7 linked regions of the Homo sapiens genome follow. The protein of the gene in region 3 purifies or fractionates together with the protein of the main gene of each other region. This does not show direct contact. Each region holds a gene or a part of one and is shown on either strand. Other genes may lie near its edges.

The links.
Region 1: the proteins of ZNF333 (region 3) and MRPS9 purify together in Homo sapiens (co-immunoprecipitation; one large-scale study listed by IntAct). This does not show direct contact.
Region 2: the proteins of ZNF333 (region 3) and ARL15 purify together in Homo sapiens (affinity purification with mass spectrometry; one large-scale study listed by BioGRID and IntAct). This does not show direct contact.
Region 4: the proteins of ZNF333 (region 3) and TRIM37 purify together in Homo sapiens (co-immunoprecipitation; one large-scale study listed by IntAct). This does not show direct contact.
Region 5: the proteins of ZNF333 (region 3) and ASPM purify together in Homo sapiens (affinity purification with mass spectrometry; one large-scale study listed by BioGRID and IntAct). This does not show direct contact.
Region 6: the proteins of ZNF333 (region 3) and HJURP purify together in Homo sapiens (affinity purification with mass spectrometry; one large-scale study listed by BioGRID and IntAct). This does not show direct contact.
Region 7: the proteins of ZNF333 (region 3) and TRIM33 purify together in Homo sapiens (affinity purification with mass spectrometry; one large-scale study listed by BioGRID and IntAct). This does not show direct contact.

The regions. Positions count from the first base shown.
Region 1 is NC_000002.12:105,044,569-105,048,068, reverse strand, and holds part of MRPS9 (small ribosomal subunit protein uS9m), read right to left. Parts: intron 1-3,500.
Region 2 is NC_000005.10:54,304,074-54,307,573, reverse strand, and holds part of ARL15 (ADP-ribosylation factor-like protein 15), read left to right. Parts: intron 1-3,500.
Region 3 is NC_000019.10:14,700,048-14,703,547, forward strand, and holds part of ZNF333 (zinc finger protein 333), read left to right. Parts: intron 1-158; exon of another isoform or gene 159-1,837; intron 1,838-3,500. UniProt on the Homo sapiens protein: May be involved in transcriptional regulation.
Region 4 is NC_000017.11:59,026,881-59,030,380, reverse strand, and holds part of TRIM37 (E3 ubiquitin-protein ligase TRIM37), read left to right. Parts: intron 1-1,657; coding exon 1,658-1,966; intron 1,967-3,500. UniProt on the Homo sapiens protein: E3 ubiquitin-protein ligase required to prevent centriole reduplication. Probably acts by ubiquitinating positive regulators of centriole reduplication.
Region 5 is NC_000001.11:197,083,627-197,087,669, reverse strand, and holds the end of ASPM (abnormal spindle-like microcephaly-associated protein), read left to right. Parts: intron 1-697; coding exon 698-867; intron 868-3,243; coding exon 3,244-3,346; 3' UTR 3,347-3,543; downstream 3,544-4,043. UniProt on the Homo sapiens protein: Involved in mitotic spindle regulation and coordination of mitotic processes.
Region 6 is NC_000002.12:233,844,536-233,848,035, reverse strand, and holds part of HJURP (Holliday junction recognition protein), read left to right. Parts: intron 1-574; coding exon 575-639; intron 640-2,215; coding exon 2,216-2,308; intron 2,309-3,500. UniProt on the Homo sapiens protein: Centromeric protein that plays a central role in the incorporation and maintenance of histone H3-like variant CENPA at centromeres.
Region 7 is NC_000001.11:114,399,704-114,403,203, reverse strand, and holds part of TRIM33 (E3 ubiquitin-protein ligase TRIM33), read left to right. Parts: intron 1-320; coding exon 321-444; intron 445-1,740; coding exon 1,741-1,815; intron 1,816-3,500. UniProt on the Homo sapiens protein: Acts as an E3 ubiquitin-protein ligase. Promotes SMAD4 ubiquitination, nuclear exclusion and degradation via the ubiquitin proteasome pathway. According to PubMed:16751102, does not promote a decrease in the level of endogenous SMAD4.

The sequences.
Region 1 (3,500 bases), on a different chromosome or scaffold from region 3:
TGCCGCAATAAACATACGTGTGCATGTGTCTTTATGGAGAGGATGTGGAGAAATAGGAACACTTTTACACTGTTGGTGGGACCGTAAACTAGTTCAACCATTGTGGAAGTCAGTGTGGCGATTCCTCAGTGATCTAGAACTAGAAATACTATTTGACCCAGCCATCCCATTACTGGGTATATACCCAAAGGGCTCGCATATCTTTTAAAGGCATCAGTAATTATATCACACTTGCTGCTGCTGGTCCTTTTATGCTGTGGCACTAGGAATTTCCCTCCAAGGCATGAAGATTTCGCCTTCAGTCAAAGATGCTAAAAAACGAGAAAAATGTTTTCAAATGACATTCAGCTGCATCCCGTAGCTGGAAATAACTAGAACAGATCTTTCTGGTCCTGGCTTTTCTTAAGATCTCAAACCTGTAGTTCTCAACCTTCATCCTGGCCCCAACAATTCTAAACACTCTTAAAGCAATATTCAGGCCTTAAAACCACAATCTTAGGAATCCACTCACTTCCTTTTTCATAAACATAAATCTCTCTCAGACAGACATCATTCACTGGCACCATCCCTCCTACCTCCATCCCCTTCCCTTCCAAGAGTCCTAAATTCAGATGCCTCTACAGTAATTTGTCACTAAAGTTACACAAGAAAATATAAGAAAAAATACAGGAGAAATGTAACAATACCCAATTAATGAAAAAAATATATGTTTTTAAACTCTTCCAAATTAAGATAGTAAAAATAGAGTTTCTTCTTACTTTTTAATGAGTAAGAAAAGGGCAATTTAAAATTCTCTGAAACTTGAGTTTATTTTTACTTAGGAGATCACATCCTTCTAAAATATATTACTAACCAATCATTATCGTTTCTCACAATGCTTTGTGAAGATACAGTATTGCTGTCAATGAGTAAAAGCATGACCACAACTGGCTAATGCATGGTCCGCTCTTTTATAGACACAGCCTGTCTGTACACCCCTGCTCCCCTTGCCACAGCCCAGCGCCACCAGCACCAACTCCCTACCATAGTGGTTCCCATCTTAACGTTTTTACTGTTTTCCAGGGGATTTTAAAATTTGTTCTTTATGAGTCTACGTCTTCTTTGGGCAATGGAGAATGTTGCTTCACATATTCAAAGTGAAGAGAAATTATCTTTCTACCCCAAGAATCATAGCAAAGGTGTGATTTGGGGGCCAAAAAGTAGCAATCATATAGTAGATAATTCTCCCAAATGTTCCATTGCCAAAAGGATGATTACACTGCTGGTTTTTATAGATAACATGACAAAATGTTTTTGTTCACAGCTAAAACAACCCTAATACAGGTGAACCCACAAAGACTTTCTTTTAGGTCACTACAACCACACTCCCTGCCAATCACCAACCACAGCCCTCAGGAAATGTGCCTCCTGGAGCGTATGGCTCCTTTCACTGAAGGGATTCCAGAGGAGGAGCAAGATCAGGGAGGAAAGTGATGCGTTCAAATTTGAGAATGTGTGTGAGATGTTGATGGACATCCCAGGAAGACAGATGTCCAGGAGGCAGGTGGCTTTGTGGGTGTGAGCATGGACAGACCTGAGCTTCAGATACAGGTCTGTTAATCACCTGAGACATGATGTTGACACTTAAAAGAGAAGGAGAAAAAATGGCAAGCATTAGCGTTAGGACAAAAAACATGTCTTCTACTAGTAATGAAACAAATTGTTTGTAGGTGAGGGAAGGTAGGCAGAAAGGCAAGGTTACTTATGTCTTACACCCTCTATTTTCTCTATGAAATAGAAGATGGTCTGTCTGCTGAGAGCAAAAGGCGGTAGGTTTAACAGACTGAACACCTCATATTCAAAGAACTGTGATGCAGTGGTTGTAAAGTATAGACAGAAAAACTGTCAGAAAGAAATTAGAGATGTCTGGGTGCGGTGGCTCACGCCTGTAATTCTAGCACTTTGGGAGGCCAAGGCAGGTGGATCACTTGAGGTCAGGAGTTTGAGACCAGCCTGGCCAACATTGTGAGACCCCATCTCTACTAAAAATTACAAAAATTAGCAGGGCATGGTGGTGTGCGCCTGTAATACCAGTCATTCAGGAGGCTGAGGCAGGAGAATCGCTTGAACCGGGGAGCCGGAGGTTGCAGTTAGCCAAGATCGCACCACTGCACTCCAGCCTGGGCAACAGAGGGAGACTCTGTCTCCCAAAGAAATTAGAGAAAAAAATTTTAAGTATTCATTCATACTTAGAGGTAATTCTCATTACTAGTGAGCCAGGAGAATAATTCCAGACAGGAATCTATATCCATACAATGTCTGTAATCTTTTGTCAATTTTATTTCCCTATGGTTGGTTTCTTTTGTATGTTTCATCGGTATATTCAATGTGCTATTTAGTTCCAGAGAGTTACATCTTAGGGTAGATTGTACCGTTCAGCATTACAAAGTTTTCTACTCCTATGTAATATTTTTTTTCTTCAATTCTGTTGGGTCATAATATTGCAACCCTTTCAACCTCCTATTTACATTTCCCTGGAATATCACTGCCCATCTTTTTCATTTAAGTTTTAGACTATTTTTTTTAGGTTTTGTTTTTTTAACCCAATCTGAGATTTTAGTAGATGAGAATACCCAAGTTACATGGGGTTTAACAGCTATTCGGTCTTGTCATTCATCTTATTTAATCTTTACATTTTTTAATGCTTCCTTCCTATTTTCTTTCTTTTGCTATATGAAAAAAAAAAAAGAATTGGGTTTTCTTTTTTTTTTGGCTTTTGAGCTGGCAATTTGGACCATATACAGCTTGCTCTCATTTTACCAGTGACAATACATGTGTCTCTGAATAAAATGTTTAAATGTACTATCAACTTCAAAAATAAATATCCAATGAATTCTTACTGACTTATTCAGCTCTTTTTCAGCCACAGCAATTATCTGTTCTTCTGTTCTCCATAGTTTAGATCAGCTTCTCTTAGTCTTATTTCTTATCCCTTTTCTGCATTCTGTATGATTTTGAAATCTTTACTCCATGTTTTTTTCCCTCTTTCTACAGTGTCAATTCTGCTTACTGCAGCCACTATGAATTTTTAGCTTTTTATATCATTGGTCTATCCTCAAAATTCTTACCTCAACAGTTTCCTTTAATCATATCTTCTTGTCTTATCCCATCTCATAGAGCTCCTCCTCACTCAACTGATTTTTAAATGTCCTTGACAGTGTTAAGTAGCTGTGGTAAAATAATTCTTCCATTTTGTTAGGTAAATATCCCTTTGTATTTTCTTCAGCTGTCTCTTCCACACTGTTCCTTTTGCTCCTACAACATTTTAGCATCTTCTCAAGCAAAAGAGTCTCGATTATTGAAGACTTGGTTTTTCACTTGATTTAAAATTGTGTCTGCCTATAGTCTCCAGAGTTTGTGACATAAGGTGGTGGCTTTCCTACTTTTAACATAATTGAGGTTTAAACATATTTATAAACATTTTCATTGTTGTCCATTTAGAAAGGGCTTTAAAAAAATGG
Region 2 (3,500 bases), on a different chromosome or scaffold from region 3:
AAACAAATGTTCTCAGAAGTGACAGTCAAGGTGAGGGACAGGGATAGTACTTTAATATTTAAGACAGGGTTTTATTGATTTCAGTCGAGAGAAAGAATAGAAATTTGCTAATCCTAATCAATTAGATGTATCACCTGGTGCGGTGCCTGACTTGGTTTCTGGCATGTATTAATAGTTAGGGCCCGATATTTTATTTGTTGAATCAGATGAATATGAAATGGAAAGGAAAATTCTGCTTTTTTTCACCAGTTTTTAAACTGAGACAAGATAAAATCTGTTTGGATTAGGTGTTTTGTTCAGGGGAATGCAGAATGTATCCTTTACTCTTAACTTGAAGATGATCAAGATATAATCCTTTTAGCCAGGGTGGCAATTTAAACATAAAAATCTCTGTTTTCCAGTTGATGAGTGAATCTTCCTAGAAGGGCACACAACTTTTCCCCTTTCCATGATGGGGTTTAAAGGCCATGTTTACATCTGCCAAGTCTCTGGGTAAACATTTAGCTGCTGTCCCAACAGGCAGTACCAGCATCTTACTCTTTCTTCTCATAGGTAGAACTAGTAACACAATGTGCAGAGCTTTTTGGATAAGGTAGGAGAAAATAGTCAGGTTAAAATGAAAGAGAAAAACACATTTCTCGAGTTTTCCTGGGAGGTTGGACAAGATCAACTTCTAGATTCCTTTCAGTTCAAAATTTTCTGTCTTGACTCATGTGATGATTGATCTGGAATTAACCTTTTTTCCCTCTGCGCCATCAAAACAACAGTGGTAGAATTGGTTGTACTCTGTGTAATACCTATGATGATTAAATGAGATAGTGGAGGGAAAGCCATTTGTAAACAGTACGTTGCTTTTCAAATATAAAATGTTAACGTATTGTGTGGCTGGGCGAGGTGGCTCACGCCCGTAATCCCAGGACTTTGGGAGGGCAAGACAGGCGGATCACTTGAGGTCAGGAGTTTGAGACCAGCCTGGCTGACATGGAGAAACCCCATCTCCACTTAAAATAGAAAAATTAGCTGGGTGTCGTGGCGCATGCCTGTAATCTCAGCTACTTGGGAGGCTGAGGCAGGAGAATCGCTTGAACCCAGGAGGCAGAGGTTGCAGTGAGATCGCACAACTGCACTCCAGCCTGGGCGACAGAGTGAGACTCCGTCTCAAGACAAAAAAAAAAAAAAAAAGTTAACGTATTGTGATTATGTTGCTGATGTTACTTTTATACCTCCTGTAGAATGACTGTTACTGCTTAGTGGTATTGAAATACCTTTTAAACTAGTCTCAATTTATGGAAATACTGGGAGTTGTAATCAACAAGCAGGAAGTCACAAGACTCTTTTAAGAATCTTTTAAAAGCTACGAAAATAAAACCCATTTGAATAATTTATCTATTCAACAAATATTTATGGAGCCCTTACTTTCTGCATGGCCCTGAAAGTCATGCGGGATGAACCCTCAGCTGTAATATCCTCCTTGACTGCAGGACTGGCAGTCGTGTGGCTCTAGAGGAACCTGTGGCAGGACAGGTTAAGTAAGGCACATAGGGGAGGGGGTAGCTTCTGATGTGCTTCTTTGCTTTCTAGTACATTTCTCTCATTTTGTGTGTTTTATTGTGAACTAAAATATAAACTTAGACTTGAAAATGTGACAAGTAAAAATGGTTGATTAGTCTTGGATGCTAATTGTCAATTAATATTCATTGCATTTGTTTATAGTAGCCTCCACCCTCCCATCCACGGTTTTACTTTTCAAGGTTTCAGTTAACCATGGTCCACCGAGGTCTCAAAATAAGTGAGTAAAGTACAATAAGATATTTTAAGAGAGAGAGAGACCACATTCATATAACTTTTATTACTGTATATTGTTATCATTGTTCACTTTTATTATTAGTTATTATTAATCACTTACTATGCCTAATTTACACATTAAACTTTATCATAGGTGTGTGTGTATAGGAAAAAATATAGTGTGCTCTGTGCTATGTTAGTTAGTTCTATGATAGCTCAGTACTATCTGTGGTTTTAGGTATCCACTGGGACTTGGAATATATCCCCCATGGATGAGGGGAAACTACTGTACCGTGTTGGGGATTTTTTATTTATTTATTTTTTTTTTGTGACAGAGTTTTGCTCTTGTCATGCAGGCTGGAGTGCAATGGGGTGATTCTCCTGTCTCAGCCTCCTAAGTAGCTGGGATTACAGGTGCCCACCACCATGCCCAGCTAATTTTTGTATGTTTAGTAGAGACGGGGTTTCACCATGTTGGCCAGGCTGGTCTCAAACTCCTGACCTCAGGTGATCCACCTGCCTCGACCTCCCAAAGTGCTGGGATTACAGGAGTGAGCCACCGTGCCCTGCCAGTGTTTGGGATTTAATAAGATTAGATTTGATAGGTTAGTTTAATAAGATTTCTTTGTATAGACTGGTGGACTTGACCTATTTAGTTTCTTGGTTATAGGCTGTATCTGCCATCATAAAAATGTATGTCTCAGTGGGGAAGATGTGGTGAGAGAATTGGGTTGATCATCACAAATCTGTCACCATTTGCAGGATAAAAACCAGCTAACTAACCAACAATAGAAACCCATGATGTGCTACAAAGGGTAGAGCCCACAGGCACTATGAAATTGTAAAGGATCCTACTTGAAAAGAGGAGTGAAGGTACATTTGTGATTTCATATTATGTTCAGTTATCTGTGAACTGAACTTCTTTATTGATAAAAAAAAAAGTACATTGTTTCGTTGTTTTTAACCCTGAATATCTATGAACATTGTAAGTTGTATTTATTGTGACTAACTTTAAAGTGATAATGTAGGTCACTTTTTAGTCTAAATGTCGAGTGGATTAGGCAGTCATATTAAATATTCCTTTCTTAATAATTTATAAGATAAAAATTATCTGAGCACAATAAACAGATCTACCATATATGGAGTTCATATAGCAAAAATGTTTTGAGCAAATCCGTACCATTAGGTAGGAACTTTTCTACAAAGGTGTTAAGTCTGGTTCCCAAACTTCTGTGGCTCCAGTCTAACAGTATGAGCCCTAGGAGAGGACACATAGGGACCTTGATTCATGCCCTCCAGGGGCTTGCATTCTGAAAGATGCCAAAGCCACATGCTTGTTGGCATGTGGGCAGTGCTCAGGTCGGGGGTGAGAGGAGATAAGTATATGAGTTATAATCAGGAGGGCAAAATCAGTTAACATTTATTGAACACTTACTCTGTGCCAGTGTTCTAAGTGCTTTGCATGTGTAATAGCATTAAACTGAGGCTCAGGGAGGTTGTGTAATTTCCTCAAGTTCACACAGCTAGCAAGTAGTTGAACTGCGCTTGTGGCCCCAGGGCCCTCCCTCTTCATTGCCTTCCACCTACAAGTAGTTCCCTTGTGCTAGGCAGAGGCTCAGGCAGCTTGGTGTTAAGGCAGTTGGGATGCACTCAAAATTTTTAGTATATTGCTTCTTAAGTAAACAGGTACAGAAAAGTGGTCCTTGACCACTACT
Region 3 (3,500 bases):
AGGCTGGAATGCAGTGGCATGTTCATGGCTCACTGCAGCCTCAAACTCCTGGGCTCAAGCGATCCTTCTACCTCAGCCTCCCGAGTACCTGGGACCACAGGCCTGAGTCACCATGCCCAGCTAATTTTTTTCTTTTTCTTTCTTTTTTTTTTTCTTAGAGATGGGGTCTTGCTATGTTGCCCAGGATGATCTCGAACTCCTGGCCTCATGTGTTCCTCCCACCTCAGCCACCCAAGTAGCTGGGACTACAGGTGTGAGCCAGTGGGCCCAGCCATTACTCACCTCTTGTCAGGAGCAAGCTCCACCTGGAGAAAAGGCTCCTGATGAGTTGAAAGGAGGCAGGAAATGTTTCTGGAGGAGCTGTAACCTGGATGTGGGTGAGAGAACTGGCAAGACAGAGGCCACTTTGATTGGAAAGAATGTGGGAAAGTTGTTGGGCATCCTTTTCTTCTTAGGAGACCAGTCTAGATCCCACACTGGAAGGAAGCCCTTTTCAGTGTGGAAAAAGCCTTCCATATGAGCTTGTACATTAATAGTACAGGAGAAAATATACACGGAGTCCCCACCATCCCCCCTTTGGCCCTGAATTTCCTCCGCCTCAAACAAGAGGACCTTCCAAAGTTTGAGTTCCCATTCCTGAGTATTGGTGAAAGTTAGAGTTAGGGTTTGGTTAGAAGGAGGCACAGAGCTCAGCCTCACCCCCAAGTGGGGCGTATTAGTCCCAGGGTCAGTGAGAACCCCGGGATCCCTCAGTCAGTGCCCCTTCCCCTGTGTCATGGATGGGTGTCAGCATCAGAGCGTCAGGGATGCCCCACACAGTGGATGGGGTGCAGTGGCCTCGGTTTTAGAGACCCACATTCAACTTCTTTGCCAGGGAAGCTTCTGGAACACAGAGAAGCCTCAACCCTGTGCAGCTTGGTGTGGGCTGCAGATCAGCCAAAACTCACAACCTGCCTGGCTGCAACAGACCCCTGGGCAGCTGACAGCCCTCCTCACTCCCCAGGCCCTCCTCGCCCTTGGTTTACACTCTTGTTTTGGTGGAGAACACCCTCCAGTAGCTCCTTGGGATCAGGTGCTTGGGTTTTGAGACCTTGACTTCTGAGAATGTCTTATCAGGGCTGCTGGATTGCAGGTTCCTCATCCGATGTGGTGGTTGCGGTAAGCCTCATTACAGAACATCCTTTTTTCTTTCTTTTCTTTTTAAATAGATATGGGGTCTTGTTCTGTCACCTAGGCAGGAGTGCACTGGCACGATCATAGCTCCCTGTAGCTTTGAACTTATTAGCTCAAGTGCTCTTCCTGCCTCAGCCTCCTCCCGAGTAGCTGGGACTACAGGCACGCACCACTACACCTGGCTGATTTTAAAAAATTGTTTTGGAGACGAAGTCTTGCTGTGTTGTGCAGGCTCCCATTGCAGGGCATTCTGTGTGTCATGTAGCCCCCAGTGCTTGTTGAATGAAGGAAGGAATGGATAAGGTGTTGCAGAAGGCATCTCCAGTTCCCATCCTCCACCTCCATGTCTCTCTTGCTCAGCAGGTGGACCCCATGTGAAGAAAGGAGAGAGGGAGGGAGAATGAGCAACGAGGGCCCGGTGCCCTCTTTGTTTCTGTGGGCTCTCTCCTTTCAGTACAGGGCTCCAGTGCCCTCCACAGAACTCCACACCCAGCCCAGCAAGCCCCTCCATAATGGGTGCTGAGAGTGGCAGGCATGGGGCTCTTGTTACATCAGAGCCCCAGGAAACAGGCGGTCACAGACTATTCTGAGTGGGCAGAGGAGGTCCACCTATGGACACACGTTTAGAGAAGCTGAGGAGTTCATCCCTGAAGACATCCAGCCCGTGAGTAGTAGAGGTGGGTTTGGAGCTAGGAGTTGAACCCAGACCTAACCGCAGAGACCACAGTCTCAGCTGTCAGGTTCTACTGCCTGACGATCATACAACCTGCTGCTGGGTTGATGGTGCTGACCCTTTAGGTAGCCCTTCCAGGCCATGCCAGGCATCATTGTGCCTTGTCACAATCATTGAGACCCTGTATGGTGGCTCCGAGACCTCCCTGTCACATGGGAAAAAGTGCTGATGGCCAGGGACAGATTGAGTCCCCATGGCCTCCCTCTCTTTGGTCGGCTGGTCCAGCAGAGGGACCAGTGAAGAGGAGGGTGGGAAACTGCTCTTAGAAGAGTCCCAAGGAAGCCAGGCACAGGGCCTCACCCCAGAATCCCAGCAACTCCGGAAGCTGAGGTGGGAGGACCACTGGAGCCCAGGATTTTGAAACCAGCCTGGGCAATATAGCAAGAACCCATCTCTGCAAAACATACAAAAATTAGTCATGGCTAGGTGTGGTGGTGTGCACCTGTAGTTCAGCTACTTGGGAGGCTAAGGCGAGAAAATTGCTTGAGCCCAGGAATTCAAGGCTGCAGTGAGCCATGTGTTTGCACCACTGCTCTCCAGCCTGGGTGACGGAGCAGGATTCTGTCTCAAAAAAAGAAAAATAAAACTCCCCAAGGGAGGCTGAGGAACAGGCCTCTCCAGGCTCAGCCCTTCTTCTGTCCCAGGCCCACCCCACAGCTGCCTCTTCTGCAGACACCTGGCTCCTTGAGGCTGCAGTGTTGCTGCTTTCATCCTCTGCTGCATCCGCAGGGCCTGCACTAGCAGTGCCCATGTCTTAGTCTGTTCTCACCCTGCTGATAAAGAGATACCCGAGTTGGGTCATCTATAAAGGATGCAGGTTTAATTGACTCACAGTTCAGCATGGCTGGGGAGGCCTCAGGAAACTTACAACATGGCGGCAGGGGACGCAAACACATCCTTCACATGGTGGGCAGCAAGGAGAAGTATAAACAAAAGGGGGAAAAACCCCTTATAAAACCATCAGATCGTGGCCGGGCGTGGTGGCTCACACCTGTAATCCCAGCACTTTGGGAGGCCGAGGCGGGCGGATCATGAGGTCAGGAGATCGAGACCATCCTGGCTAACATGGTGAAACCCCGTCTCTACTAAAAATACAAAAAATTAGCCGGGCGTGGTGGCGGGCGCCTGTAGTCCCAGCTACTTGGGAGGCTGAGGCAGGAGAATGGCGTGAACCCCAGGGGGCGGAGCTTGCAGTGAGCCGAGATCGCGCCACTGCACTCCAGCCTGGGCGACAGCAAGACTCCGTCTCAAAAAAAAAAAAAAAAAAAACCATCAGATCTTGTGAGAACTCACTCACTATTTCGAGAACAGCAGCATGGGGGTAACTGCCTCCATGATTCAATTACCTCCCACCGGGTCCCTCCCATGACATACGGGGATTATGGGAACTACAATTCAAGATGAGATTTGGGTGGGGACACAGCCAGACCATATCAGCCCAGTACATATTTGTTCGACAAATAGGCAGAACGCCTAAAAACAGTTTCTTTAAGTTGAGTGACCTGTGTCAAAATGATTCTGATGGAAACATTTGTCTCAAAATGTACCCGTGGGATTTTGATTTATGACACAGAGAGGCCAATGTCATTGGAAA
Region 4 (3,500 bases), on a different chromosome or scaffold from region 3:
AATCTCAACACTTGGGGAGGCTGAGGCGGGTGGATCACCTGAGGTCAGGAGTTCGAGACCAGCCTAGCCAACATGGTGAAACCCTGTCTCTACTAAAAATACAAAAAATTAGCCGGCCATTGTGGCAGGTGCCTGTAATCCCAGCTACCTGGGAAGCTGAGGCAGGAGAATGGCTTAAACCTGGGAGTCGGAGGTTGCAGTGAGCCGAGATCGTGCCATTGCACTCCAGCCTGGGCAACGAGTGAAACTCCATGAAAAAAAAAAATGAACTGGAATACAGACAGTTATTTTTCTGGAGGTGATACTGGATAATTAAAACCAAGGGTGTGAGATTGCAAAGGAGTTTTAAGAATATTTTAAAAGAAGAGAGCCAGGAACATAATCCTGATGAATATCTGTTTTTACTGAGTGTCAGGAAGATGAGCCAGATAAAGAGCTTTTAGAAAGGAGAAAAAATACTCATGGAAGCCAAATGAAAATACCTTTCAGTGAAGGGATGTTAATAAAAGCTAGTGTGCAGAAATATATGACTTTCTTTTTATTGAAAAGGCTTGCTTGGGTCATTTTTTGTTTGATTGATTGTTTGTTTGTTTTTGAGACAGAGTCTCACTCTGTTGCCCAGGCTGGAGTGCTCTACAATTTTTTGTAGAGACAGGTTTCACCATGTTGGCCAGGTTTGTCTCAAAACTCCTGAGCTCAAGTGATCCACCTGCCTCGGCCTCCCAAAGTGTGCTGGGATTATAGGCGTGAGCCACTGCACGTGGCCTGCTTGGGCTTTGATGTTTATTTTTTTCTGTGTATTTATTTAACACATATTTAGTGAACATTTGTCAGATTAACTTCATGTTCTTAACCATGTAAAGGAGTACTGTAAAAGGTATCAGGTAATCTAGTTGAACCAGATTTTAAGGTACATATAGTGGTAAGTAGAACTAGAGTCATGTTGGGTCCATTCTATGAAAGGACTTGCATGCTAGCCGGAGGAATTTATTCATACTAGGCATGGAGAGCTATTGTTTTATTTTAGAAGTGGTTAGATTCAAACCGTATTTCAGAAAGCTGACAGTTCTGAGAAAATTATCAGAAATGGAAGTTCTAATAAAAAAATTTTTTTTTGTACAGATAGGGTGTCACTATGCTCCCCTGGCTGATCTTGAACTTCTGGCCTCAAGCGATTCTCTCACCTCAGCCTCCTGAAGTGCTGGGATTACAGGCATAAGCCACTGCACCTGGCCAGAAATATGTATTTTTAATATAATGTTATATATGGCAGATTTGACAAAGTATTTGGTTTCTAGATTTTTCTTTGTCTTTTTTTTCAATTATAAACATAATAAAAGCTCTGTAGAAAGTTTCAGAAAAGTGGAGAAGTTTAAAGAAGAAAGCACAAGGCAGTAGGGCAGCTTTTAAACTTTTAGAATTAAATGTGTAATTCGAACTTGAGTATGATGTGACTCAGATTCTAACTCTGAAGGTGTGAATAAGGTAGGATTCTTTATCTTTATTTTCATTAATGGAATTTAGTGCATGTTTTATTGTTGATACCACGTAAAGCACGCTAGCTTATTTTACACATCAAATTTGCATATATTCATGGTACAAATGATTTCATTAATATTAACGTTTATGTTAACATGACTTGTCAATTTCTCTGAAGCATCATATTCTCGAAAAGATAAAGACCAAAGGAAGCAACAGGCAATGTGGCGAGTGCCCTCTGATTTAAAGATGCTAAAAAGACTCAAAACTCAAATGGCCGAAGTTCGATGTATGAAAACTGATGTAAAGAATACACTTTCAGAAATAAAAAGCAGCAGTGCTGCTTCTGGAGACATGCAGACAAGCCTTTTTTCTGCTGACCAGGCAGCTCTGGCTGCATGTGGAACTGAAAACTCTGGCAGATTGCAGGATTTGGGAATGGAACTCCTGGCAAAGTCATCAGTTGCCAATTGTTACATACGAAACTGTAAGTAATATGTTCCCAGTGTCATTTCTCCACACGTTATTTGGGAAACTAGATGACTGGTTTTTTCAAAAGAATAATATTTAAATACCACTCTTCCAGTGAGTTAAGACTACAAATTACATGTGACTTTTTTCTTCATCCAAAATTGATTCCGTATATTTTTACTATATAATAGAACTAACATTTCTTGATTGCTTACTCTGTATTTGGCAATAAACAAGACAAAATTCTTAACATCATAGATCTTGTATTCTAGTAGTGGGAATCAGACATTAAAAAGTGTAGACAAGTAAGTAAAGATCATTTCAGTGGGTAAAAGGTGCTGTGAAGGAAACAACCGAGGAGTGGGATGGGAGGAGCAGATGAGACATGTTCTATTGGGGTAGTCAGAGAAAGTCTCTGTGAGGAGGCAGCACTTGACCTGAGACCTGAAGTTTAGGAAGGTGGCAGCTATTTATAGATCTAGGGCAAGCAGTGTTCTGGGTAAACAGAACAGAAACTGCAAAGTCACTGACACAGGATTTATTTTGCGTATTTGAAGGATTGAAGGAAGACCAGTATGGCAAAGAAAGCAGAGAGAGGAGACTAGCAGGAGACGAAGTCAGAGAGAGGTAGGCAGAATTTAGATCAGGGAGAGTCTTGCAAAACCTCAAAAAGGAGTTCGAGTTTTATTATGATGTAAGGAGGAAGCCTCTAGAGAATAAAAATAAGGGGTGTTTATAATCTGATTTACACTTTACAAAGATGACTTTGCTTGTTGTGTGGAGAAGGGTCTGAAAAGGGTTGAGGACAGGAATTGTGAGACCAGTAACAGCCTATTACATTATCTTGTGTGAAATATGATGGCATTTTCTGGAGTTACAATAATGGATAGAGGGGCTTGTTCACAGTCTAGCAGCCTTTCTTGACTGAGGTTCCCATCTTTCTTAGTTCTCTTAAGGATGTGCTATTCTATTCTAGATGCATAGGAGGGAAGTTAATCCAGTCTTAGATCAGCAGGGCTGAGTTCTTTCTCAGAACCATAGTTGAAAAAGCCTAAATAGAATTTTAGGAAAGTTCTATTTAGAAAGAAACTAAGAATTATGATTAAGTTTTGGCCTAAGCAACTTAATAGGCAGTGGTATCATTTATTGAGAAGCAAATCAGATAAGAAGCAGGTTATGGGGCTTGGGAGGAGGTAAGGGCAGAAAGTTGGGTATTCTTTTTTAAACATGTTTAATTTGAGACACCTGCTAGATATCCTAGTAAAATGTCATAGACACGTGAATGGTACACAACTTTGAAACTCAGAGAGAGGTCAATGCTGGATATAAACAGTTGGGAGTCAATAGTATTTTATATTATTTAAATCCAGAAGACTGAATAGGGTCAAGTTTGGAGGGAGTTTCAATGGAGAAGCAAAATTTTTGACTCTGTGGCACTTAAACATTTAAAGATCTGATAAATAGGAGAGGCCAGCAAAGGAAATTGAAAGAGCAATCATTAAGGTAGGAGAAAAACTAGAAGGGATAATATCTCAAAAATCAAAAATAAT
Region 5 (4,043 bases), on a different chromosome or scaffold from region 3:
CAAGAGATTGTGCTTGTCTTAGGATTGTGTCGCTGAGAGGTAAGTAGAAGACTTTGGAAACTGCAGAGGTAAACTTTTCAAGACTTGGTAACTGGATATGATAGGTGTGTTGACTATAATTGCTATGTTGACTATAATAATTCCTTCTTATATTCAGTGTGGAGTTAAGTATGCAACTTTTGAATATTTATCTTCCTTATAATTGCCTTGCAAATTAGCTCGTAATTTAAATCAATCTACCTGCCAAACTTGGTGAGGTTTCTTTGATTATTCAAAGCTTAAAAGTTTACTGCAGGCTGGGCACGGTGGCTCACGCCTGTAATCCCAGCACTTTGGGAGGCTGAGGTAGGCAGATCACGAGGTCAGGAGATTGAGACCATCCTGGCTCACACGGTGAAACTCCATCTCTACTAAAAATACAAAAAAAATTAGCCGGGTGTGGTGGCGGGTGCCTGTAATCCCAGCTACTTGGGAGACTGAGGCAGGAGAATGGCGTGAACCCGGGAGGCAGAGATTGCATTGAGCTAAGATCGCACCACTGCACTTCAGCCTGGGCGACAGAGCAAGAGAGACCATCTCAAAAAAGAAAAAAAAAAGGTTTACTGCATAGTTTTTATTATATTTGATTTTGCTAGTCTAAAAGAGATAAAATTTTAATTCTTATTACTTTTTAGTAACTGTGCATTTTATTTTGTAGGATGTACGAAGTAGGTCCAAAGTTGTTGACCGTATTTACAGTCTCTACAAACTTACAGCTCATAAACATAAAATGAATACTGAAAGAATACTTTACAAGCAAAAGAAGAATTCTTCTATAAGCATTCCTTTTATCCCAGAAACACCTGTAAGGACCAGAATAGTTTCAAGGTAAGCAATTAAATATAGTCCATAAATTTGTGTCACTGTTCATTCATTCATTTAACAAATATTTATTGAGCACTTACCATAAACAAGATGTGCTTTTCAGTGGAGAAACAACATATGAATAAGAATGGAATGTTTGGTAAATTTAAAAGAAGCAGTCTTGGTAAATAAAGAAATAACATTATACTGTAGCTTTGGACATTTAATAGTTATTCAACAAACTTCTTATATTAAATAGTTAAGAGCTAAGGCTAAGAAGCTTGTTATAAGTTTTGTCATTTTATTTTATTTATTTTATTTTGCATGAAAGACAAACTACACTGTTTAAGAAGTGCCAAAAGTCCTTCTTAGCCAAAATATCAACCTCCAGTCCTCCCATAATCACCCTGATTCTTGAAATTTCTCCTTCTGGAAATTTAGATTGACATTTTCTGATTTTATTGGCAAAAAGATTTAATTTATTTTGGTGAACCGTCATGGCATTTAATTAGTGTTTTTACTCCCTTCCTTCTTTCTCCCTCCTCCTTTTTTTCTTCCCCCTTCTCCCTCTCTCCCTCCCTTCCTTCCTTCTTTCCTTCTTGAGACTTAGCAATTCTCTATACTAGGTACAAATCCTACATTATTGACAACACACTATTTCTTGACCTGAGTGGTTACACAGCCATTAGCTTTATAATTATACTCATAATTATAAACTGTATAATGTAGTTATAAATTGGTTTTATGCATGCATATTTCACAGCATAATGTAAAGTTCATTTGCTTGAAATATATTAATGGGACCATTTCTACATGTTTTTTAAGGACTTGGTAGAATTTAATATTCATTATGTTTTAAAAGCTCATACTAACATATGAATGGATTCTCTTAAAATTTTGATGTAGGTCAGGCTTTTGAGGTAAAATTTACTGACAGTATAAATGCATCCTTTAAATGTATGCAATTCAATTCGTTTTGACAAATGTATACAGTTAGGAAACTACCACCACTGAGATACAAAATATTTCTGTAACACAAAGTTTCCTTATGCCCCTTTGTTGTCAGTTCTCTTTCTTTATTCCCTGGATTTTGGGAACTACTGATCTGATTTTTGTACCTTTAGTTTTGCCATTTCTATACTGTCACATATATGGAATCATATAGTAGATAGCTTTTTGTGACTGGATTCTTTTCCTTAGCATAATGCTTTTGAAATTCGTTCATGTTTATGCATGGATTTGAATTTCATTCCTTTCTATCACTTAGTACTATTCCATTGTATGGTCGTACCACACTTTGTTCACTCACCAATTGATATATCTTTGGATTTTTAGCAGGACAAAATAAGATGATGGAAATGCATATAGTAGGGAATTATGTGAGAAGATGCATGAACTCCCTCGGTTTGATACTATTTTCTCAATAAGTTTGAGATTATAAACTCAACAACTCAGAAGCAGCTCAGAGGGTATGGAGGGGAAGTTTGAAAAGAGGAAAGGACCAAGATAGTCATCTTGGAGAGAAAGGGAGCATGCTGGCAATTTCAAATGCTCATTTTAGATTTGTAATTATTGGCAAAAAATAAAATCAGCTTGGTTGTGTAAACATTTTTAGTAATATGCAGCTGTATAGGAATGGAGAAGGCAGATATTTTGACTCAATTTGAAATCCAAGTAGAATTCTTCAGACTAGTTTGGTAGGAGAGAGAGACAACAGTTAATGGCATTTGCAAAGGTTTTGATAATACTGATGCACCTGAGCTAGATACACAGGAAAGTAAGGACAGCATTCTGGTGGATGTTGGGTATGTGTTGAGGCCAAATGAAGTGGAGATCTCAGTGGGGTAGAAGAACTGGTTCAATGACTGTGTTAGAGCATATGACATGGATGAATCAGAAATGGTGGATGGAGAATGGAAGTCTCAAGATTTCAGTGGTCGCACACTTTCTGATGATGACAAAGTCTAGTATGTGATCATATTAAAAAGGATTGGTTGAGGTAGAATTGAAGGAAAGTGGGGCAAAAACGGACTAGGTTGTTGGCTTTTTGGCCACATAGATGTTGCTGTTGCTGAGAACGGTGACAGTAGGTAAGAGGAGAACAAGAACCAGGTTTACAAGGAATAAGACACTGAGAGTTTGGCTGATGACCAAAAGGCAGTGGTCAAGCTAAATAGCATAAGCTTCAAAGAAGCCAGCATTATTTTTTAGAAAGGATGGAGAGAAATAGTCTGGAACTAGTGATGGGCAATAATATGAAGTTCTCCCACCTCTTTGAGCAGTTTGTAAGGGAAATGATGTGTTCAGGAGTAGCTACAATTTAGTTAAGAGAAAAAAGGTGAAGGTAACTCTAAAGAGAAGAACTTTATTAATGCCAGACTTTTTTTTTTTTTTTAACAGACTTAAGCCAGATTGGGTTTTGAGAAGAGATAACATGGAAGAAATCACAAATCCCCTGCAAGCTATTCAAATGGTGATGGATACGCTTGGCATTCCTTATTAGTAAATGTAAACATTTTCAGTATGTATAGTGTAAAGAAATATTAAAGCCAATCATGAGTACGTAAAGTGATTTTTGCTCTCCGTGTACAACTTTTAAAATCTGACTTTGTTTTAAAAAAACATAAACTGTTCATTACATTCTTCATTTTTATCATTTATAGTTTTATGCATGTAATAAACTAATATGTCATAAGATGATTATATTATTCCTGTCTATTATCTTAAAGTATTATAGTAGTTTCAATGTAATCTTATTACTAAAAGGAAATAATAGCTGATTACACCTTTTTTATAGGTAAGTTGAGGAATTTTCATAAAACAAATGTTAGAAATTGAAGTTCTGTCTACTCACTAAGAAGTGAGACTAGGATAAAATAATCTCACAAATTCATATCAATGGCATCCTTATCTATATCCTTGACTGGCTAAAGCATCCAGATAAGCAAGTGAGCCCTTCTAGGCTCACAAAAAGAATACACCCACCACTGTATTTACTAAAAATTCTTACCATTGAACTGATGGGGGTTATAATTTGAAGTGGAAGGAACATGCTATTGCTTATAATAGAATCTTGTTGTGTAGTTATACACCACAGACCTGAAAATGATTCAGTATTGAAATGTGATTTTTTTTCTACTCTTTGAGTCACTATTACTAGTATCTGTGGTTTCAGGGCCACAGATGTCTAATTCTTATGG
Region 6 (3,500 bases), on a different chromosome or scaffold from region 3:
TACTGCTATTAATCCAGATTTTAACTATAAATCCTTAGGTCCATGAATTTCCCCAACCGCTTGAAATCACAGGAAATAGTTATTTGATAGATGTACTGCCCAGTATGGCACCCACCAGCCCTCTCTGGATGATATTTAAATTAGTTGAAAGTGAAATAAAATTTAAAATCCATTTCCTCAGCCTTACTGGCCACATCCCAGCTGTTCAGTAGCCCGGTGTGGCTAGTGGCTGGCCTAGGACAGCAGGCAGAGAACTTTCCATGGTCACCGGAAGTTCTGTCGAGCAGTGCTGGGCTTGAGCGTCTCAACTTCCAGGCTCAGAGGCCATGGAAAGCTGGAGGTGGTGCAGAATCTGCCTTTCCTCACTCCATGGCCCCAGGCAGTTTCCCATTCTAGGGGTTCTCTGGGTTACTAAGAACCACGGGCAGCCGTAGATGGCTCCAGTGGGTGCACCCTTGAAGCAATGGGGATTTTTACTGTACAACTTACTCGAAGTGATGCCAAAACCATCCTTGAGAGGAAAATGCACTCCTTCCTGAAAATCCTGATTGAGATTTACTTGTTTGACTTTTAGATTCAAAAAGCGGTGAGGTCGATGCCACGTCAGACCAGGAAGAGTCAGTTGCTTGGGCCTTAGCAGTAAGTGCTGCCTTTAGTAATGAATGGACAGAGGGGGCGCTTGGGGGCTCAGGGGTCCATCAAAGCCCATGTGGCCTGAGGCGGGCAGCGCTGCCTGCACTTTTCTGGAAGTCCTCTCCTGAGGCTGGCTTTTGCTACTTCCAAGTCTCGGATTTCCTCGTGTCGATTCCCTTCAGCGGTAAGGCCCTCCTCTCAGTCTAGCACCTGGCAGCCAGTTCTACCCCCAGTGCAAGCCTGATTCACGATGATTTTCACTCTGCAGATAAAGCTGTCAGTGTGGTTGGCAGGGCGCCATCTGCCTGGATGAGCACACGACAGGAAAGCTGGGCTCTCGGTCAGTCTCCCCTACAGGGGCAGGGTAAAAAGAGAGGTGTTCTAGGGAGTATTTCCAGGTCTGTCCTCAAATGCCCCAAGTCACAAGGTCGCCTCATTGGGCAGCCGTCACTAACCCAAACAGTAAGTGTCATCTATATGTCTGTTTCCCAGAGTGCCCCCTGGGTCACAGAAACCACCCGTTTTCTTATGGGATGTGCTTCTTATCCTCCTTGGTTGGGATAGATGCGAATTTACACAGAGCTTAACCAGCTCCAGCATCTTTCCTGGCCCCCGTGTCACACTCTGTTGCCTGCCAGAATACCTGATGCATGGTTTTCCTCTAAAATTGCTACTTTTGTGCAGAGGGTTTCCCACGCACCCATGTGTGACTTTCAGTGACTAAGAAAAAGGCCGTGGTCCTGGGGAAGAAAGTGGATGCTCACTGAGAGATTGTGTAGGGATTGGAACAAAGGGGAAGTGGGTGGTACCAAGAGTCAAGAACCAAAGTGCCAGCCCCACTCAGCAGAGGATAGAGGGTGACGCCCTCTATTTCCAGTGTCTAGCAGGGGAGGGGTAGGAGAGCCTCCTGAGCTGGAGCACTGAATTTCTGTTTTTGTTTTTGGTTCTTTTGAGATGGAGTTTCACTCTGTCACCCAGGCTGGAGTGCGGTGGGGCAATCTCAGCTCACTGCAACCTCTACTTCCTGGGTTCAAGCGATTCTCCTGCCTCAGCCTCCCAAGTAGCTGGGACTACAGGCGCCCACCACCATGCCCAGCTAATTTTTGTATTGTAGTAGAGATGGACTTTCACCATGTTGGCCAGGCTGGTCTCGAACTCCTGGCCTCAAGTGATCCACCTGCCTCAGCCTCCTAAAGTGCTGGGATTACAGGCATGACCCATCACACCCAGCCAGGAGCACTGAATTTCTTATAAACTTACCAGTTTGAAGTTATTACCAGTAGTTGAGTCCTGAACTCACCTATGAATATTCAGATTTTTTTTTTCCTGGTCTAGCAATGCTGTCATAAACTTCTCTAGACATGGTTTTTTTGTGTGTGTGTGTCTTTTTACATTCTTTTGGATTATTAACATAGCAGGAAGTGAAAAAGTGACTTTGAATAACATCATGGAGGTGAAAGTGACTTTGAGTAGGATCATGTAAAGATTTGTACATTAATGAGCTTGCCAGTTTGTTCCAGAAGCCAAAAGGTCAGCTATACTCAGAAGCTCTTAAAAATTCTGACTTCTCTTTTTTGATCAGCCTGCAGTGCCTCAAAGCCCTTTGAAAAATGAATTAAGAAGGAAATACTTGACCCAAGTGGATATACTGCTACAAGGTGCAGAGTATTTTGAGGTAATCTGTTTCCCAGTTGTTTGTTTTTATATAATTAGATCATAAACTAAATACATTGAGGTACAGTGTTATTATGCTTTTTGTTTTTTCTACAGAACCCATAAAGAGCATTTGAAGTAATGATTTCCAAATTGTTTTATTCACATGCTGACATACTTGCTCTTCTTGAATAAACACTCCAGGTCCCCCAGGGCAGCGCCATCAGGAAGGTGGGAGCCCTGGCAGGGGTGCTCTGCCCACTGTTCTGGGGCAACTCACAGAAAAATCTAGTGGGGCAGCCAGGCACAGTGGCTCATGTCTGTAATCCCAGCACTTTGAGAGGCCAAGGCAGGTGGGTCACTTGAGGTCAGGAGTTTGAGACCAGCCTGGCCAACATGGTGAAATCTCATCTCTACTAAAAATAGAAAAATTAGCTGGGTGTGGTGGTGCGTGCTTGTAATCCCAGCTACTTGGGAGGCTAAGGCAGGATAATCGCTTGAACCCAGGAGGCGGAGGTTGCAGTGAGCTGAGATTGTGCCACTGTGCTCCAGCCAGGGTGATAGAGCAAGACTCTATCTCAAAAAAAAAAAAATCTATTGGGGCCACACACGGGACTCTTAAGAGCAGCCCTGACCTCTGGACCAGGATTTGAAGCTGCATAGTTAGGGAAGCAATAGTCCCCACATTCCCTGGTGCGATCAGGCTAGAATCAGCTGCAAGGTGAGGAGGCTGACCCTTGGCACCTGTCCCGCCTGCTGAGAGGTCATGTTGGGAGGGGGGGGATGTGATGGCATGAGAGGTGGGCACACTCACCTGCCAACCCCTCTCTTAAGGTCAGTGCCCTCTGCCATAGAATAAAGGACATTGCAACACCAAATACTTAGGAAGTACACATTGCAGAATAAGAATTCATCTCCAGAAAAAGGCAGCAATCTCACAGGGGTGTATGTGTTTTCTTACTGTGCTGCTGACCAGCGGAAAGCCTGTATTTGTGGACCACCGACTTAGTGGATGTACCTGAAATGCTTTTTCCTTTAACCCAAGGCAGCAAGTGGTGTCCTCTTGGTTGCTGTGTTGATCCAGGGAACAGATTAGGGTTAGGAACGAACGGATCTACTGGGTCTTCTTTGTCCACCGTCCGGTTGGCCCCTAGGTGTTCTTGTGGTCTGAGTATAATGCTAGACAAAGAAAGCTACCAGCGCCCCTGGGGTAA
Region 7 (3,500 bases), on a different chromosome or scaffold from region 3:
TGGTGATACTGGGATCTGAGAGAATTGGTCTTAGGCCTTATGCTGCAAGTACTGCTCATCACTACTAAGAGACCCCCTTTTAATGCGGAGGTGCCATTTTTATAATGCATTCCAGAAAGTAATCAATTGATGCGTGACTAGGAAAATTTAGAGGAGTTTTTAATCACATGACTTCACCTGACGAGATTTCACAACTATAAAACCTCCCTTTTTTCAAAAAATTATTAAGAAAATAAACCAGGCCCCAGTCCAGGGAAGTAGCTTCTCTAGAGCAGGCTTTCTTATAATTACGTGGACTAATTGCCTATTTCCCTGTCTAGTGGGGACTGGATATGCACATTTTGTAGAGATATTGGAAAGCCAGAAGTTGAATATGATTGTGATAATTTGCAACATAGTAAGAAGGGGAAAACTGCGCAGGGGTTAAGCCCCGTGGACCAAAGGGTAAGTGTCAAATAAGTTGATTTGTCACTGGGATTCAGTAGTTGTCTGCCTATATATACACCTTTTTTTTTCCTGTGTAGCATACACAAAACCTGATAACATTTAATTTTTAATCCTGTCATCTGATGGTATATTGATGATTTCTGAAGTCTTTTTTTCCTCTAACCCTGAACTACAGACCCTTCTATCCAGATTCCTCAAACTTAACATGTCCCAACTAAAATCTTAATTTCTAATCCTCTCCCTCCAAGCACAAAACCAAGCAAATAACGACATAAAAAACTGTATTCCTCCCCCAGTATTCCCCTTAATTGAATGATACCACCATTCATTTCTGTTGCTCAGGTTAGAAACCTATTAGAAATGAAATAATAATAACTATAATATGATTTTCTTACCTTACATCATAATTTCTCATCTGGACTATTGTAGTGATCTCTTAACTGCTCTCCCCGCTTCTGCTCTTGACCTTTATAGTTTGTTTTCTGTATTAAACAGTGTTCTTTTTAAAAAAGTAAACAAGTCTATCATTTCCTTGCTTAAAATCCTCTAATAGCTTCTCATCATATTAAAAATGGAAACTCTCTCCTTACTTTACTCAGATTTTTACCAATCTGGCCTGTAGTCTGATTGCCAAAGACAGACTCTTTTGCATTGTCGTGTGGTCATTAGAGTTAAGTTTGGCTCTACTCTGGTGTATATACTGGTAAAAACCCTCATCCACTATCTGTGAAGACAAGATACGTGTTTAGGGTATACAAACTTGTATTAAAAGAAGTTTAGATAAATAGAAGACTGTGAATGTAAAATGCATTTCAGTTTACTCATGATTGGGTAAAAAAATATTTTTGGAGTTAGACTGAGAAGGCCATTTTCATTTTGAACCTGACTGGAATCATTTGAAGAAAGGGGATGATAACTTTCAACATTTGTCTTGCCTGTCTAAGGAATTACCATGAGGAGCAACAGTGATAATTTATTTACTTATTTATTTATTACCAAGTAATTTATAAATTTTTGCACAAAGTGTTAGATGTTGCTTTTGTGACTCCCTTCCATAAATTACCTTAGTTATCTTCCATTCTTACTTAAAGTAGAACAAAAGATAGTCTGAAAACAAAATGAGAAGCAAGGGAATTTTCTTTGGGTGTTTATGTTTAGTTGAGTATCTAGTAAACAGGGGGCTTGTGTTCAGTTTGTTGTAATCAAACTTTGTTGTGATATAGTTCTCATTCTCGAGAATGTTTTATTAGGAGAAAAATATTTCATGTGCTTTCCTTTCCTTGTTTGGGCCAGAAATGTGAACGTCTTCTGCTTTACCTCTATTGCCATGAATTAAGTATTGAATTCCAGGAGCCTGTTCCTGCTTCGGTGAGTTGCCTACCTTAGTAGCTCGGTGGGGAAGTCTCATAATACTTAAGAGTATGGGCTCTGGCGGCCGGGCGCGGTGGCTCACGCCTGTAATCCCAGCACTTTGGGAGGCCGAGGCAGGCGGATCACGAGGTCAGGAAATAGAGACCACGGTGAAACCCCGTGTCTACTAAAAATACAAAAAACTAGCCGGGCACGGTGGCGGGCACCTGTAGTCCCAGCTACTCCGGAGGCTGAGGCAGGAGAATGGCATGAACCCGGGAGGCGGAGCTTGCAGTGAGCCGAGATCGCGCCACTGCACTCCAGCCTGGGCGACAGAGCGAGACTCCGTCTCAAAAAAAAAAAGAAAAAAAAAAAAAAGAGTATGGCCTTAGACTAAGTTGTATTACACCTCAGCCTTCTGGAATAAGCTCTTCAACCTCTCTAAGACTCAAGTTTTCTGACACGATTTTTTACCTCATTGGGTTGTTCTGAGGATTATATAAAATAACCTATGTAAAATATTTAGCATAGTCTATAGTCATTGAGTTTTGTAAGGAATAAAGGCTCTAAAATGCTGCAATAAAAGGAAGATTAGAGGTGTTTGGTGCCTAATAAGTGGGGTAAGAATATTCTACACACATTTTATTGCTAGCCATCAGTTGTTGAATAGTACATTATTACATACCAGGCCTGTTAGAGAATATTAAATGGTAGTTGACTTGTTTACTGGGTAGCCTGAGAAATGAATTTTAAATCACAAAAGGTATAGACAGAAGGAAGATGTTTTGTACAAGCAGTAATCATCTGTTTCTGGAAAATTTGTCTCATCTTTAAGTGCAGGGATTTTAAAGTAGAAAATGACTTTCAAATGTTTTCTTTTTATGGACTATTAAAGTAGCTTCTTGGCCGGGCATGGTGGCTCATGCCTGTAATCCCATCATTTTGGGAGGCCTGGCAGGCAGATCACTTGAGTTCAGGAGTTCAAGACCAGCCTGGCCAACATGGTGAAACCCCCTCTCTACTGAAAATATAAAAATTAGCCGGGCGTGGTAGTGCATGCCTGTAATCCCAACTGCTAGGGAGGCTGAGGCAGGATAATTGCCAGGGGATGGAGGTGGCAATGAGCCACAGTTGGCGCCACTGCACCACTGCACTCCAGCCTGGGCGACAGAGCAAGACTCCATCTCAAAAATCAATTAGTCAATCAGTCAATAAAATAGCTTCTCTAACTTTACTTTTATCCCAAGGGTAGAAATTTTTCGCCAGAGTTGGGGTCAGAATTCCCTAGCGTGAACACTAAATGGTTAATAAAGTTAGTAAATTTTTCTTATGTTCTTAGTCTTACTTCCTCTGTTACTAAGTCAAGACTTCGTGATGTAAATGATATTCCCTGTTATGTTTTCCAAAAGACATCATATTCTAATTGTAACATTAATATATTTTGTAAATTTTTTTCTTTAAAAAAAAAAGAAAAACTCCTAAGGAGTCATAAAATTCTGGTAAGTCAAATGTTGCCTCAAGGCTACTGGTTGGTTACCCTTGCTAATTGCTTTCTTTCCAAATCTTATTATTAAAAGTAGGACTTTGGGGACTTGGACTAACCATGAAGATTGGCACATATGCCACATAAGATTTGGTTTTCATGAAGATGTAAAGTACATACGTCTATACTCAAAATTTGCAAGCAGCTGGCTCTATAATAA